3 separate regions of the Homo sapiens genome follow, and all the other regions are reported to be linked to region 2. The links are microRNA targets in miRTarBase. Many come from high-throughput screens and were not tested one by one. Region 2 holds a microRNA gene; each other region holds the end of a gene's coding sequence.
What was found. Region 2 holds the annotated microRNA hsa-miR-519d-3p (CAAAGUGCCUCCCUUUAGAGUG, at 1,584-1,605, shown strand). A microRNA usually pairs through its seed, bases 2 to 8, with sites in the 3' UTR of a target mRNA and lowers its output. Matches are read on the target gene's strand: a 7mer-m8 pairs with bases 2 to 8, a 7mer-A1 pairs with bases 2 to 7 and ends in A, and an 8mer does both.

Region 1 (5,064 bases), not on the chromosome of region 2:
ACCAGTGGACTCTGCTCCAGTGATGGAAGAAGATACGAATGGGGAGAGCCACGTTCCCCAAGAAAATGAAGAAGAAGAGGAAAAAGAGCCCAGTCAGGCAGCTGCCATCCACCCCGACAACTGTGAAGAAAGTGAAGTCAGCGAGAGGGAGGCCCAACCTCCCTGTCCCGAGGCCCATGGGGAGGAGTTGGGGGGATTTCCAGAGGTAGGCAGCCCAGCCTCTCCGCCAGCCAGTGGAGGGCTCACCGAGGAGCCCCTGGGGCCCATGGAGGGGGAGCTCCCAGGAGAGGCCTGCACACTCACTGCCCATGAAGGAAGAGGGGGCAAGTGTACCGAGGAAGGGGATGCCTCACAGCAAGAGGGCTGCACCTTAGGTTCTGACCCCATCTGCCTCAGTGAGAGCCAGGTTTCTGAGGAACAAGAAGAGATGGGAGGGCAAAGCAGCGCGGCCCAGGCCACGGCCAGTGTGAATGCAGAGGAGATCAAGGTAGCCCGTATTCATGAGTGTCAGTGGGTGGTGGAGGATGCTCCAAACCCGGATGTCCTGCTGTCACACAAAGATGACGTGAAGGAGGGAGAAGGTGGTCAGGAGAGTTTCCCAGAGCTGCCCTCAGAGGAGTGAAAGGGACAATTTGGCTGAAGTCTTTCTCTGAAAAAAGCCAAAGGGTTATAGGGGTACACTTAGGGGTTGCATGCAAGCTGTTACCAAAAAATTTTTAAGTATTTTCTTAATTTGAATAATAAAACCAGAGGAAATGCATACAGGGCATGAGCAACTGAGGCAAACCTTTGTGGACATGAATTGTTCTACGATGAATTTTTGCTTTAGTATTTTAATAAGAATTACAAAGACAATGGCATACTTGGGGTGAGAGGGAGCTGAGGATGTCTGAGGAGGGAATAGTATTGCAGGGAAGACTGAGAAAACAGTAGGATGACAGTTTTGAGTATACTCTGCACTTTTCAATTGTGCAATCTTCTTGTGCACTTTAAGGCTTTTTAATTTTGTTTGAGAATGCAAATGTATACTGTAAGTCTACCTTTACTATCTACTATGCCTACTTCACCATCTCTTAAGGACTCGGCATTTGTCCACAGTCAGACTGCAAGAGAGGGTAGGTCATGAACAGTCACCCGTGCTGGCTGTAGCCCCCACAGAGGCAATCATGCCCAATAGATTCAAGAGAAGCTAAGCGGAAATGGAGGGTGGAAGGTGTGATCTGTGGGACTGTCTGGGCCTGTTACTCATCCTGCTATCAATTTCTTATTAATTAATCTTGATGATTCTTATTAATTAATCACATTTGCAGGAAATTCAGATGAGGCAAGAAAATTTTATTGGCCTGGGTAAGACTGAAAGCATTCCAAATTAGGCTTAGACTGTGCAAAGGGCTTAGCTAAGTTATCGAGCTTAAAACCCGTCAATTAAACAAACATTATTTGAACAGTTACTGCATGCCACGCACTGTGTTGGGCTTAGTAATAAAAAAAAGAAAAGATAAGTGCTTGTTCTAGCATAAATTAAAAGGTCCAAGGGAATTTAATCTGGAAGAGAACATATGCCAATTTTTAAACTATGACAGCTTTTTTTTTTCTCTTTCCATTCAAATAGTCCTGGTTCATTCCCAGAAGGGCACAAAATGAATGAATAAATAAATAAATGAATAAAGACAAAAGCCAAGGTGTATGCTCTCAAGTTCCAAAGATGTTATCAAAAGCTGAAATCATTTGTTTGGTCATTCAGCAAGCTAATTGAGTCTCTGTTATATACCAAGCACTGGGGATACCATGGCGAAAAACAACTTTGTTCCTTCCTCCTAGAACTTACATTTTAATGGAAATAGACAAAACACATCTTCTTAACGGATGGTGACCTATAACCATTAATGTTGAAAATGGAAGAGACTTGCTTCCAAAAGATTAAAAGGAGTTGTTCTTTTCTCCTTCAGAAAAATACCAGATCATTTCCTAAAATCTCCAGTCCCAAGTATTACATCGTGGTTTCCCTCCCCGACTTTTTATTTTATTTTATTCTATTTTTTTGAGATGGAGTCTCACTCTGTCGCCAAGGCTGGAGTGCAGTGGTGTGATCTCGGCTCACTGCAACCTCCGCCTCCTGGGTTCAGGAGATTCTCCTCTGTCAGCGTCCCAAGTAGCTGGAATTACAGCCATGCGGCACCATTCCCGGCTAATTTTTGTATTTTTGGTAGAGATGGGTTTTCACCATGTTGGCCAGGCTGGTCTCAAACTCCTGATTTCAAGCGATCCACCCACCTCGACTTCCCAAAGTGCTGGGATTACAGCGTGAGCTACCTGGCCCCTCCCCAAATTTTAACATCAGATCTCAACATATTTGTTGAGAACTTGTTTAGATCATCACTATCGAGTAAATTTATGTCAGTTCTTTAGAGCATTTGCTTCACACACAGTTCAACCATTTAACCAGAAATTAAAATATCACCCTTTTCAGCCCTCCCATGAAGAATTTCTAGGTCATAAACATGAATAATACTCAGTATATGTATAATATCATATTTAATTGTTGCAACTTTTCTTGGCGTGTTTAAATCCTCATGTCTTTGAGGGATCCCACCACAGGTGAAGGAAGTAAAGACCACTTCTCCCCCAGTCTCTGCTTTCTGCAGTGCTCACTCATATCCTGGCATTTAGCATGGTGTGTTGAAATTAGGTTTACTTCTTGTCTCTCCAAGTGGCTCCTCTCTTAAAAGACAGAAACTAGGGTTTAGTCATCATTTGTGCTTCCTGCTAGAAACCCACAGCCTTGAATAATGGCTTCCTGCCTCCTTGAGTCACTTTAATATCCCTGGTGCATAGGACCTGGCATGCGTCAGGCTGCTCGGGAAATGTGGGAACTGGACACCCAGAACACTGCTGTGCTGGGGCTATTTGGGGCCTGCTGTCAGGCAGAAAGACGTTTTGAATTGGGCTTTCTGCCCTTGTTGAGTTTTCTCTTAAGTAAAGTCCAAAGTCCAAGGGGCAGATGGCCAGATGCACTGCCCAGTAAGGCAGGAAGCCAAAGAGGCAGTGCCCAGCCCCACAAAGGCTGCCCGACTCCCTGGGACAGTAGTGTGGAGTCCCAGCCCAGGCTGACCTCACACCGGAGCTTCCTAGCTTCCTTTCTTTGCTCAATGCAGGGCTTCTTGCACCCCCTGGAAAGCTAAGAGATTTTTTTCAACCCTAAAAGAGAGTACCTTTCACTGCATTGGATGGATGAACATCAGTGCCCTAACTTTATCCATCATGTAGGTCAGGGAGGACTGGGCACTATTTGGCAGGATGTACTCCAGAATATAATCAAAGAATTTTCTGTACATATTTCACTAAAGACAAGTTTTTGGGCTGGATGTGGTAGCTTACACCTATAATCCCAGCACTTTGGGAGGCTGAGGTGAGAGGGTCACTTGAGCCCAGGAGTTCTAGACAAGCCTGGGAAACATAGCAAGATCTCATCCTTACAAAAAATAATAATGGTGTGTGCCTGCAGTCCTAGCTACTTGGGTGGTTGAGGCAGGAGGATTGTTTGAGCGAGGGAAGTTGAGGCTGCAGTGAACTATGATTTTACCACTGCACTCCAGCTTGGGCAACAAAATGAGACCCTGTCTCAAAAAAAAAAAAAAAGTTTTCTAGAATAAGCAGGATGATTGTTTAATTTGAAGATGGAACAGGAAACTAGAGTGCATTTAAAATACTCTGTCTTCATTTTAACATGTTGAATGGAATAACTGCATATCACCATGAGTTTGTTTTGCTTTTCATACAGACTTGTATGTGTCATTTGAGTGGTTTCCAGATTGGAGCGAGGTTATTCTGATCTAAATGAACAGCATTTTTTTCCTTAGCCTCTGTTTGCCACTCTGGGTATCTCTCCTATGGGCAAAGCCATTAGAAATGCATAAAACCTCGAGACATGGTTTTTGGCAAAAACTCCATGACTTTAAACTAGCTCTTTTACTACTGACCTTTCACAGAGAAAAAATATTTCCCTTGAAAAAAACTGGGCTTGTCATTTTTTCCCTTGTAGCTTTAAGCAGAGACATAAGTGCCTTGCATTACACATAGTAAACTTTCTTTAAAAAAAAAAAAAAAAGATTTTGGAGACTACCAGGGTAAGATTCCAACTTGTCCAAAAGCTTTCTGGCCTTACATATTTTATTATAAAAATTCTCAAGTCTGGTAATCTTCTATGTCAGAGCTAGTGATTTCAAAAGGTTTCACAATTCCCCAAGACAAAAGTGATTTTCGTTCATTATAATAAGGTTAAGTGATATGTGATTCATAGCAATTTTGATGTGAAGAAGGGAAGGACATCATTGACTTAATAATAGTATCAGTCGGTGCAACAGTTGGCAACATGTGCCTTCACACTTTACCATAAAGAGACGGGTTTGAGGGTTTGCCTTCTAAAGTCTGCAACTTCAAGAAAAAAAATCGACACTGTGGATTGACTTTCCCGGTCACTATATAAAGCAAATAAACTTAAAACACTTTGTAACCATGTATTTACTCTGCCAGGTGCCTATATTCCAATAAAATGTTCATCCTTGAAGAGCTGACCAGATGTCATTTATTTGGAAGGAGGCTGGTTTCATCTTTTAAGCAGATGTCACATTTGAATTGTGAGGTACAGCCCTCTGAAACGAAAAGGCGAGTCATTCTTGCTGTATCATGGACCTTTTACTTTTCTGTTGTCACGAAGGAATCTGCAGGGAAACCACTTAATGTCAGGTGTAATTATGCTTTGATAATGCATATGCTTACGTCTCCAGGAATTGGATCACATTCATAATACAGCAGTGGGCAATTATTCTTGATGTAATTGAACTGCTGTTCAAACTTAAATTTATTTTCAATGGGTAACATTGAGCAAAACATTCATTCTTTCTGTAATTATATATACAACAGTATTTATTTGCCATGTCCACAGTTGCTCATTTATCCGTGGATTCATTCATCAAAAAAATAATGACTGGTCACCTCCTATAAGCAGGCACTCCAGTGGGTGGTGGAGAAACAAGTGAACACAGTAGACATGATCCCTGACAT
Region 2 (5,076 bases):
CTCCTGACCTCAGGTGATCTGCCCACCTCAGCCTCCCAAAGTGCTAAGATTACAGGCGTGAGCCACCACACATGGCCATTAACACCTTTTAGTCCATGGAAATTATTCTGGCACTGATTTATAAAGCCTCATGTGGGGTCAGGTAGAGTCAAAGGGGGACCTCAGTGTCCCTTGCAGATGGGATGTGCTCAGCAAGAGCACGGAGGTGGAGTGCATGGGGTTTGAGTTTTCACTGGGGAAATGAAACCAACATCTTGGGTGCATGACCAGGTCATATATGCAGTCATATATGCAATATGCATGGTGGTGGGTGCCTCTAATCCCAGCTACTCAGGAGGCTGACGCAGAAGAATCGCTTGAACCCAGGAGGCAGAAGTTGCCATGAGCCGAGATCCCACCACCGCATCCAGCCTGGGCGGCAGAGTGAGACTCCGTGTCAAAAAAAAGAAGATCTCAGGCAGTGACCCTCTAGATGGAAGCACTGTCTGTTGTATAAAAGAAAAGATCGTGCATCCCTTTAGAGTGTTACTGTTTGAGACAAGCAACGTTGAAGATGCTGCTGATCTTGGTAATACATTTGCAGAGCGTGCTTATCATCAGACTTGCATGATGTCGGGGTTCTGTTTGTGATTTGAAATTTTTCCAAGACAGGCTTTCTATTGCCCAGGCGTGGGTGGATAGCACCTTCCACCAAGATTTCTTGGGCTTAAGTGGTCCTCTTTTTATTTTTTGATTTTTTGAGACACACTCTTGTTTCGTTGGGAGTGCAGTAGCAGGATCTCTGCTCACCGGAAACTCCACCTCTCGGGTTCCAGTGATTCTCCCACCTCAGCCTGCCGAATTGTTGGGAATTCAGGCATCAGGCACCCACCATCGTGTCCTGCACTCTTGCTGCCCATCCTGGAGAGCACTGGCATGATCTAGGCTCACTGCAACCTCCGCCTCCTGGGTTCGAGTGATGCTTCTGCCTCAGCCTCCCAGGTAGTTGGGATTACAGGCACCTACTGCCCCACCCAGCTAATTTTTATGTTTTTAGTAGAGACGGGTTTCACCATGTTGGCCAGGCTAGTCTTGAACTCCCGCTTTCAGGTGATCCACTAGCCTGTGGTCTATCCTGGAGGATGTTTGTGTGTGTGACAATGTATATTCTTCAACATCTTAGACTCCATTTTGGATGCTCCCATCGGAACTATGTATCCCTGTGCTGGAACTCAAGTGAACACTCAGCTCAAAGTCCATTGCTGTTCTCTAGAAATCCAGCCCAGTTCTCTTGGTTAAATATAAGGTATGTGTAGTAGGCATTGCTTTTTCTCTTTAGAGGCAAAACTCAGGAGGGTTGCCCCTTGATGAACAAGGCTAACCTGCAGAGCCTTTGAAGAAAGGAACTGGAGATGGTCCTTTTAGGGGTTTATGTTCTGGATTCTAGAAAACAGGCAAACAGGGCCAATAAATGCATCTTTATTGTTGTGGCCATTTTAACCTGGTCAAGGAAGATTTCAACAAAAAACCCAGAGTGCTGGAGCAAGAAGATCCCATGCTGTGACCCTCCAAAGGGAAGCGCTTTCTGTTTGTTTTCTCTTAAACAAAGTGCCTCCCTTTAGAGTGTTACCGTTTGGGAAAAGCCACGTTGAAGATGATGCTGATCTTGGTAATACATTTGCAGACCATGCTTGTAATCAGACTTGGATGATGTTGGGAGTCTGTTTTTTTGTTTGTTTGTTTGGTTGGTTTTTTTGTTTGTTAGGTTTTTGTTTTTTGTTTTGGTGTGTGTGTTTTGTTTTGTGTTTTTTTTTTTTTCTAAGACAAGGTCTCTGTTGCCCAGGAGAGACTAGAGAAGCACTTTTTAAGATAGGCCTGTTGGGCTCAGATGGTCCTTTTATGGGATACAGTCTTGCTCTGTGACCCAGACTGGAGTGCAGTGGCGCGATCTTGGCTCAATGCAACCTCCACCTCCCGGGTTCGAGTGATTCTCCTGCCTCAGCTTCCTGGGTAGCTGGGATTACAGATGCCTGACATCACACTCGGCTAATATTTGTATTTTTCTTTTTTATTCATTCATTCATTTTTGAGATGGAGTGTTGCTGTCACCCAGCCTGGAGGGCAGTGGCATGATCCCGGCTGACTCCAACCTCTGCCTCTCAGGTTCAAGCCATTCTCCTGCCTCAGTCTCCTGAGTAGGTGGAATTACAGGCACCCACCACTACAACCAGCTACTTTTTGATTTTGATTTTTTTTTTTTTTTTTTTTTTTTAGTAAAGGTGGGGTTTCACCATGTTGGCCAGGCTAGTCTCAAACCCCTGACCTCAAGTGAGCCGCTGGCCTCGGCCTCCCAAAGTGCTGAGAATACAGGCGTGAGCCACCGGGCACAGCCATCAGCACCTTTTACTTTATGGAAATTTTTCTGGCACTGGTATAGAACCTCACGTGGGGTCAGGTGGAGTTGAGGGGACCTCAGTGTCCCTGCAGATGGGATGAGCAAGAGCACGGAGGTGGAGTGCATGGGGCTTCAGTGTTTATTGGGGAAATGAAGCTGAAATCTGGGTGCATGACCAGGAGATAAATGCATGAGACGGCGGTCTCACTATGCTGCCCTGGCTGAAGTGGGCTTAGATCCTCCTGCCTCTGCCCCTCCCCAGTCCTTGGTAGATGGGACCACATGTGAATATTAACCCCCCATGCACAGACAAGAAGAAAGTAAGGACTGTTCTTTGGTTCATACCTGACCCCAGTTAAACTTGTATTTTAGATAAACAATGTATTTGAGATGTACTTGAACAACAAACGATTTGCTGTTCAGGTGTGGGCATCTTTGTTTTGTTTTTTTTTTTCCTAATTTTAAATATGGGACTAGTGTGCATATGGTGGCTCTTGTCTGTAATTCCTGCACTTTGTGAGGCTGAGACAGGAGGATCACCTGAGATCAGTTGTTCGAGACCAGCCTGGCCAACATGAAGCCAGGAGGCTGAGCTTTCAGTGAGCTGAAATCTTCTGCTGCACTCCACCCTGGGCAACAGAGTGAGACTCAGTCTCAAGAAAGTAAAAAATAGGCCGGGCGCGGTGGCGCATGCCTGTAATCCCAGCACTTTGGGAGGCCGAGACGGGAGGATCACCTGAGGTCAGGAGTTCAAGACCAACAGGGCCAACATGGCAAAGCCTCGTCTCTACTAAAAATACAAAAATTAGCTGGGTGCAATGGTGCACATCTGTAATTCCAGCTACTCCGGAGGCTGAGGCAGGAGAATCCCTTGAACCCAGGAGGAGGAGATTTCAGTGAGCTGAAATCAAGCCATGGCATTCCAGCCTGGGCCAGAGAGCAACATTCCGTCTCAAAAATAAATGAATAAATAAAATAAATAAAAATAAATAGATAAATATGGGACATCATAAATTTGGGTGTCACCTTTGTGTAGCAGCCAGCGTAATCTCTGTCATTCCAATTTTTTTTTATGTGAACTGCCAAAGCAAGCACTTGTGTAGGAATTTTTCTTCCTGTGAGCATACAATATATGGAACTTTCTTTGACACAGGGTCTCAGAAATATATGGTATATATTTCGTTATATATATACTTATATATAATATAATCATATACACACAAAATACTGTTCTAAATACAGAGAATACTCTGATATAACCTTGGGTATTTTTTTCTTTCTTTGTGTGTGTATGTTTTTTATTTGTTTGGCTGGTTTTTTTTTGTTTTTGTTTTTTGTTTTTTGTTTTTTGTTTTTGTTTTTGTTTTGAGACAGAGTCTCACTCTGTCGCCGAGGCTGGAGTGCAGTGACAGGATCTCGGGTCACTGCAAGCTCCGCCTACCGGGTTCACGCCATTCTCCTGCCTCAGCCTCCTGAGTAGCTGGGACCACAGGCACCCACCACCACACCTGGCTAATTTTTTTTTGTATTTTTAGTAGAGACAGGGTTTCGCCATGTTAGCCAGGATGATCTCGATCTCCTGACCTCGTGATCCACCCGCCTCGGCCTCCCAAAGTGCTGGGATTACAGGCGTCAGCCACCGCGCCCGGCCAGTTGGTTATTTTTGAGACAAGGTCTGGCTCTATCACCCAGGCTGGAGTGTAGTGGTGCGATCTTGGCTCACTGCAACCTCCACCTCCCACCTAAACCTGCTGAATTAGTGTCTACAGGCATGCACCACCACACCTGGCTCACTTTTGTGTTTTTCATACACATGGGTTTACACCATGTTGCTGGGGCTGGTCTCAGGAACTCCTGAGCTCAGGTGATCCTCCCGTCTTGGCCCCCTAATGTGCTAGGATTAGAGGTGTGAGCCAACCCACCCCACCCATACTTACGTATTTCTGTTCAGATTTTATTGAGTTTTTATGACCAAGCCTATGGTCTATCCTGGAGAATATTTGTGTATGTGACAATGTATATTCTTCAACATCGTAGACTCGATTTTGGGTGCTCCCATCGGGACTGTGTGTACCTGTCCTGGAACTCAAGTGCACCCTTGGCTCATAATCCATTGCTCTTCTCCAGAAATCTTACCAATTCTCCTGCTTAAATATAAGCTACGTGTAGTAGGCATTGTTTTTTCTTAGCAGATACGAAACTCAGGAAGATTGTCCTATGATAAACAAGGCTAACCTGCTGATTGTTTGAAGCAAGGAACTGGAGATGGTCCTTTTAGGGGTTTATGTTTTGGATTCCAGAAAACGTGTAAACAGGGCCAATACGTGCATCTTTATTTTGTGTCCAGTTTAGCCTGGTCAACAAAAATGTCAACAAAAAACCCAGAGTGCTGGAGTAAGAAGGTCTCGGGCTGTGACTCTCCAAAGGGAAGAATTTTCTCTTGTCTAAAAGAAAAGAACGCACTTCCCTTTAGAGTGTTACCGTGTGAGAAAAGCAATGCTGAAGTTGATGCTGATCTTGCAAATAACTTTGCAGAGCCTGCTTATAATCAGACTTTGACAATGGTGGGCGTCTGTTTTTTTTTTTCTAAGACAGGATCTCTGTTGCCCAGGCTGGAGTATGGTGGCACTTCCAACCTAGGTCTCTTGGGCTCAAATGGTCCTCTTTTTTGGGACAGAGTCTTGCTCTGTGACCCAAGCTAG
Region 3 (5,064 bases), not on the chromosome of region 2:
TGTATTTGGTTAGCCTACTTGTTATAAGATAGAGTTGACATTTAAGTATACAATTAAAAGTTAGGAATTTTTTTCTTCCTCAGAATAATTTCTTTTCTGTCATTGTTTCTTTTGAAACAGGAACAGGGTCTGTTCCACAAAAAAGACAGTGCCAATCAAGGCTGTGTTCGAAAAGTTTACCTGAAGGACACCGCCACAGCAGAGGTAAACAATTTAAAGAGCATGCCTCAATTTTTTTTAGCTGAAATACTTTTTTAAAAGCCTCTTATAATGAATACCATTATTTCTCCCAAAGCTCTCCCAAATATAACTATGGATGGATATATAAACTTAATATGCTGTGGACTCAGTCGGGTGCAAGGGTCTTATTTTTATATGACACATCTGGACTGTATCCTTGGTCCTTAGCTGTTGGTCCTGTTTGGAGAGCTTCAGCCCTTGCTTTCATACCTTTCCCTTCAACCAAATGAGCCTATACTTGTCTTTAAAATTCATAATAAGTATTTTACTTTACAGAGAGCATGTAATGCCATTGAGGATGCACAGTCAACGAGACAGCAGCAAAAATTGATGAAGCAGTCATCAGTGAGACTTCTCAGACCCCAATTGCCATCTTAATCACAGACCTCAGGGGCTCCAACAGGGAGAAAAAACAATCACTGGTCTTGTCTATAAGTCACTCTGCTTTATCTTGCTAAAGACAATTTTTCAAGCAATCCTTTAGTTTTAGTTTTCTGGAATAGCTAGTATTGGGTTTTCTAGTTTTTTCACCTTTTAGTTTTTACTCTAATTTTGTAACCATGTATATGCTAGCAGTCCACTTCTACGCCACCACCCAAATGGGTCAGACCCTTGAAGAAACGTCACTTCAAACTCAGAATGAAATTTTCATTAATATTAAAATTGTGAAGCAAAGGTCAATAGGCTTATATTTAATTAAAGCCTTACTGAAGAATAAGAAATGAGCTTAGAATGACTAGTGTTCTTTGAAAGGTTTTTTTATTTTTGTTTTTTTGGGGTTTTTTTTTTTTTTGAGACCGAGTCTTGCTCTGTCGCCCAGGCTGGAATGCAGTGGTGCGATCTTGGCTCACTGCAATCTCTGCCTCTCGGGTTCAAGCTGTTCTACTGCCTCAGCCTCCTGAGTAGCTGGGATTACAGGTGTGTGCCACCACGCCTGGGTAATTTTTTTTTTTTTTGTATTTTTAGTAGAGATGAGTTTCACCATGTTGGTCAGTCTAGTCTCGAACTCCTGACCTTGTGATCCGCATGCCTCAGCCTCCCAAAGTGCTGGGATTACAGGCATGAGCCACCACGGCCCGCCAAAAGGCTTTAACCCATGAACAAATGTTGGATCCTGACATTTTGTTTAAGAGTGATTTGTTCAATAATTGAACTGAGTTAACATTCTTGGTAAACCAGGTAATTGAATGAAGAAAGGTCACTAAAGGGAGAAATGACATGTTTTCTATTTTCTTTTCATGAAAACACTGTTTTTCCCCCTAATAAAGCATATTTTACTTTGGTGCTTATTTTTCCTCCTTGCAGTCTAATAAAAAAATCTGGACAATCAAACCTTAAAATAGCTACACTCTGCCCTCTGTAATGTAGCATTCATAAAAATTTGGAAGTATTTACATCCTCTTTCAAGATGAGCTTATATGACACAATTATTATTTGCTGATACATGAAAATACTGCACTTTAAGTTTCTCAAGACTCTGAAATATGTAAAATTCAATATTTTTATATTCCCAGAAATTGTTTCTTACAGGTTGAAAGTCTTTTAAGGGCATCACAAATTAACATTTACTCCTAATGCACGCCTAGAATGTATTTTAAATACTTACTAAGAAGAATGAAAATTCTTTGGTTGTTTTATATATAAATAAGGCATATATAATGACACTGTGTTCTGTGAGGGAGCAGGCCCTGTGAGAATCAATTCAGGACAGTATTTTTTTTTGTCCTTTCTCCATCCTTGATCAGAGATAAACTATTAAAACTTTAAAAAATACTCAAAAATATGTAAGTTTTTTGGTTGAACCTTTAGATTTGCTCATAATGTTTAACATAACAACATTTATTTCAAATCACTGAATTCATGGAGATGTGGACACGCTTGGTTTGCTCTATTTTTGTTTATGTGTGATAGTGGTTCTGTCATCATCATTCATGTTTTTTAAGGCCTGGTCATAAAACTTTAAATTTTACTAGTGTTACTTAATGTATATTCTAAAAAGAGAATGCAGTAACTAATGCCCTAAATGTTTGATCTCTGTTTGTCATTACTTTTTCAAAATTATTTTTTTCTGTAAAGTATAATATATAAAACTTCTTGCTTAAATTGAATTTCTATATTAGTGGTTAATTGCAGTTTATTAAAGGGATCATTATCAGTAATTTCATAGCAACTGTTCTAGTGTTTTGTGTTTTTAAAACAGAATTAGGAATTTGAGATATCTGATTATATTTTTCATATGAATCACAGCTGTTGACAATGTCCCATATATTTAAGAAATTATATCATACTGATACTATTTGTAACATTTTGATTTGATTTAATCTCCAGGGACAGAAATAATTCATTGGTAAAGTGTAATAATGCGTTTTTTAAAAATGCTTTGAGAGGTAATTACTTGCATATGAGAGAAATAAAACATTTGGCACATTGTTTACAGGTGTGAAAACTTTGTGGGTTTGTGTTATTCAAGTAACATTTGCTTTACTTTTTGTCTTTCCCTTTTCCTCTTCCAATCCCAAAATAGTGAGAAGTTATATTGATAGTTATGGAGGACTTTACAAGATACTAGTCAGAAAAGCTTTTTCTCAGGGGTACTGAGCCCCTTTATCACACTAGAGATCTGTGGCAGAGACCTCCAATACTGGGGGATTACAGAGAATGCGGTTGACCTAGGGGCCCAGCTGCACTTTGAAATCCATTGCTGTATTTGCATTGAGCCCATGCCTTCCGTGGTTTCTCTCAGCGACTGGCTGAGTATGAAGTTATACTAAGACATACTTAGTCTGGAAATTCTAGGAGACACAGAACTCCTCTGACAGCCGACTTTGGCTTGAAGACTCTTCAGTGGCCTTGCAGAACCTTTCTTAGACTGCATGGCAGTCTGGGATGTTCTACCATACCGCTGTCTTTCTCTTCTCCTCCCTCTTCCACATGGGGCTCAGACTACCAGTTTGGAAGGCTCACCCAGTGCTGGATTATCTGGTAGGAAGAATAAGTTCATGCTGAGGGCTGTAGCAAAGCAGGGGCATTAAAAAAGGAAAAAAAAAAAAAAGGAAGAAGACTGTACCCAAGCTTCGTAAGAAAAATGCCATCCAGGGTGGACTTACTTCCATGTGTTTTATGATTTAGTATTGTTTTTATTTTGAATTATGCATGAAGGAGGACACTATCATCTTTTTGGTGCTTTGAGTTTCTAAGTATGTTGATCTGGTGCTGCCTGGATATCTGTTTTTAACGAAGTTCTGTGTGTGTTTCTAATGTACAGCCAGGACTAAAAATTAATGCTCTGGACTTAAAATGATCAAATTCTTAAAGGGCTCTACAGATCTCAATGTTAGTTAATATTAAGTTGCAATTATTGCCAGAGCTGGAAGAATCATCTTTTTATTGGGGAGAAAAACCAAAGATTCTTAGAGGATAGAAGATTGCTCATAACAGGGTCATTTGTCCTCTGGGGACAAGCCCTTGTGGTTGAGAATCACTGCCAGAATGACCATGAGTACTGATGAAAGTGGGTTCTGTGCCATGTGTGTCAGCTCTAAGAAGAAATCGAGACTCACTGGAGCGGAGGGAGCACATTTCTCTTGGTAACTGTGCCGCTAGTGGGAAAATTGAGGCTTATTCTTGAATTCATGCTGGAAAGTATCTTCAGTTATAAGTGTGTATCATTCAAACAGTCAACTGTGGGTCTCTTTGAGGTGAAAAAGTCTTCAGAAAGAGTTTTCTGTTTTGTTTTTACAAACCGCAGACACATAGTTCCTTATTCAAAATTCAAAAATTCAGAAGGCTCTGAAAACCAAAAGATTTTGCAAAACTTTGAAACAAAGACATTTGGCAGCAAAATCTGAACTGAATTGACATGAGGCTATTCATGGTCTTTTATTCTATTTGGTGTAGATAATTTGGCTGTAGCAAAAGTACTTTATTTGGTTGTGGGGTGCTGCTGCAGATTTCCCTGGAGGCATACAAGCTCTATGTGGTATATGAACCATATTGTCTTTCTTTTTTCTTTTCTTTTTTTTTTTTTTAGAGACGATGTCTCACTCTGTCATCCAGGCTGGAGTGGTGCGATCTCAGCTCGCTGCAACTTTTGCCTCCCAGGTTCAAGCGATTCTTCTGCCTCAGCCTCCCGAGTAGCTGGGACTATAGGCGTGCACCACCACGCCTGGCTAATTTTTATATTTTTAGTAGAGACAGGGTTTCACCGCATCGGCCAGGCTGGTCTTGAACTCCTGACCTGGTGATCTGCCCACCTTGGCCTCCCAAAATGCTGGGACTACAGGCATGAGCCACTGCACCCAGCCCATATTGCCTTTCTTAAATGTGAAGTCCTCTATTCTGAAACATCTAGCCTCAGGGTTTTAGGTAAGAGATTGTAGAGCTGTATACCTACAAAATTCTCAATGTATTAAATTTGCTTCTCAAATTTTAGAAAAATCATAGACTATAGGAGAAACTCTAAGAAACAACAGAATTTTCTTCCCTCTCAGACCATACTAATGTTTCATTTTACAGTTAGTGCTGGCAAATTTTTTTTGATAAAGAGTTCAGAGAAATTGGTGTCAACATATATGTTGCCACATGATGTGTATCAGAAGGATGACACTTGAGAACAAATATGGAAACATAAGCACATCAAAATTATTTTTATCCCTTTTGTACATTACATATCTGCTGGATGAAAAGATTTTAAAAATTGACTTCTAGTGGGGAAAAAATTAGAATAGTAATGAAATATATATACCAACATGGTCCTCTATCCACTAAGATTATAACAACACTACAAAGAAGATTTAATTCTTTAGCATTATTTTAAACTTGAAG

Region 1: the mRNA of NIBAN1 is a reported target of hsa-miR-519d-3p. Seed matches in the 3' UTR shown: 7mer-m8 at 957-963, 8mer at 985-992, 7mer-A1 at 2,812-2,818, 7mer-m8 at 3,392-3,398 and 7mer-A1 at 4,384-4,390.
Region 3: miRTarBase lists VPS13C as a target of hsa-miR-519d-3p. Seed matches in the 3' UTR shown: 8mer at 1,696-1,703.

What each region holds. Positions count from the first base shown.
Region 1 is chr1:184,790,535-184,795,598 of GRCh38, reverse strand. NIBAN1 (niban apoptosis regulator 1) reads left to right here. Exons shown (of 14, transcript NM_052966.4): 14 at 1-4,567. The coding sequence ends at 622. Among named protein-coding and RNA genes, the nearest start is that of EDEM3, 38 kb to the right of the region's middle.
Region 2 is chr19:53,711,817-53,716,892 of GRCh38, forward strand. MIR519D (microRNA 519d) reads left to right here and starts at 1,531; the gene lies at 1,531-1,618. It overlaps MIR517A (microRNA 517a), which reads left to right and starts at 452; the gene lies at 452-538. It overlaps MIR521-2 (microRNA 521-2), which reads left to right and starts at 4,778; the gene lies at 4,778-4,864.
Region 3 is chr15:61,850,011-61,855,074 of GRCh38, reverse strand. It overlaps VPS13C (vacuolar protein sorting 13 homolog C), which reads left to right. Exons shown (of 85, transcript NM_020821.3): 84 at 121-204; 85 at 517-2,686. The coding sequence ends at 618. All of the region lies in intron 2 of LOC124903501 (a long non-coding RNA gene), which reads right to left. Among named protein-coding and RNA genes, the nearest start is that of LINC02349, 120 kb to the right of the region's middle.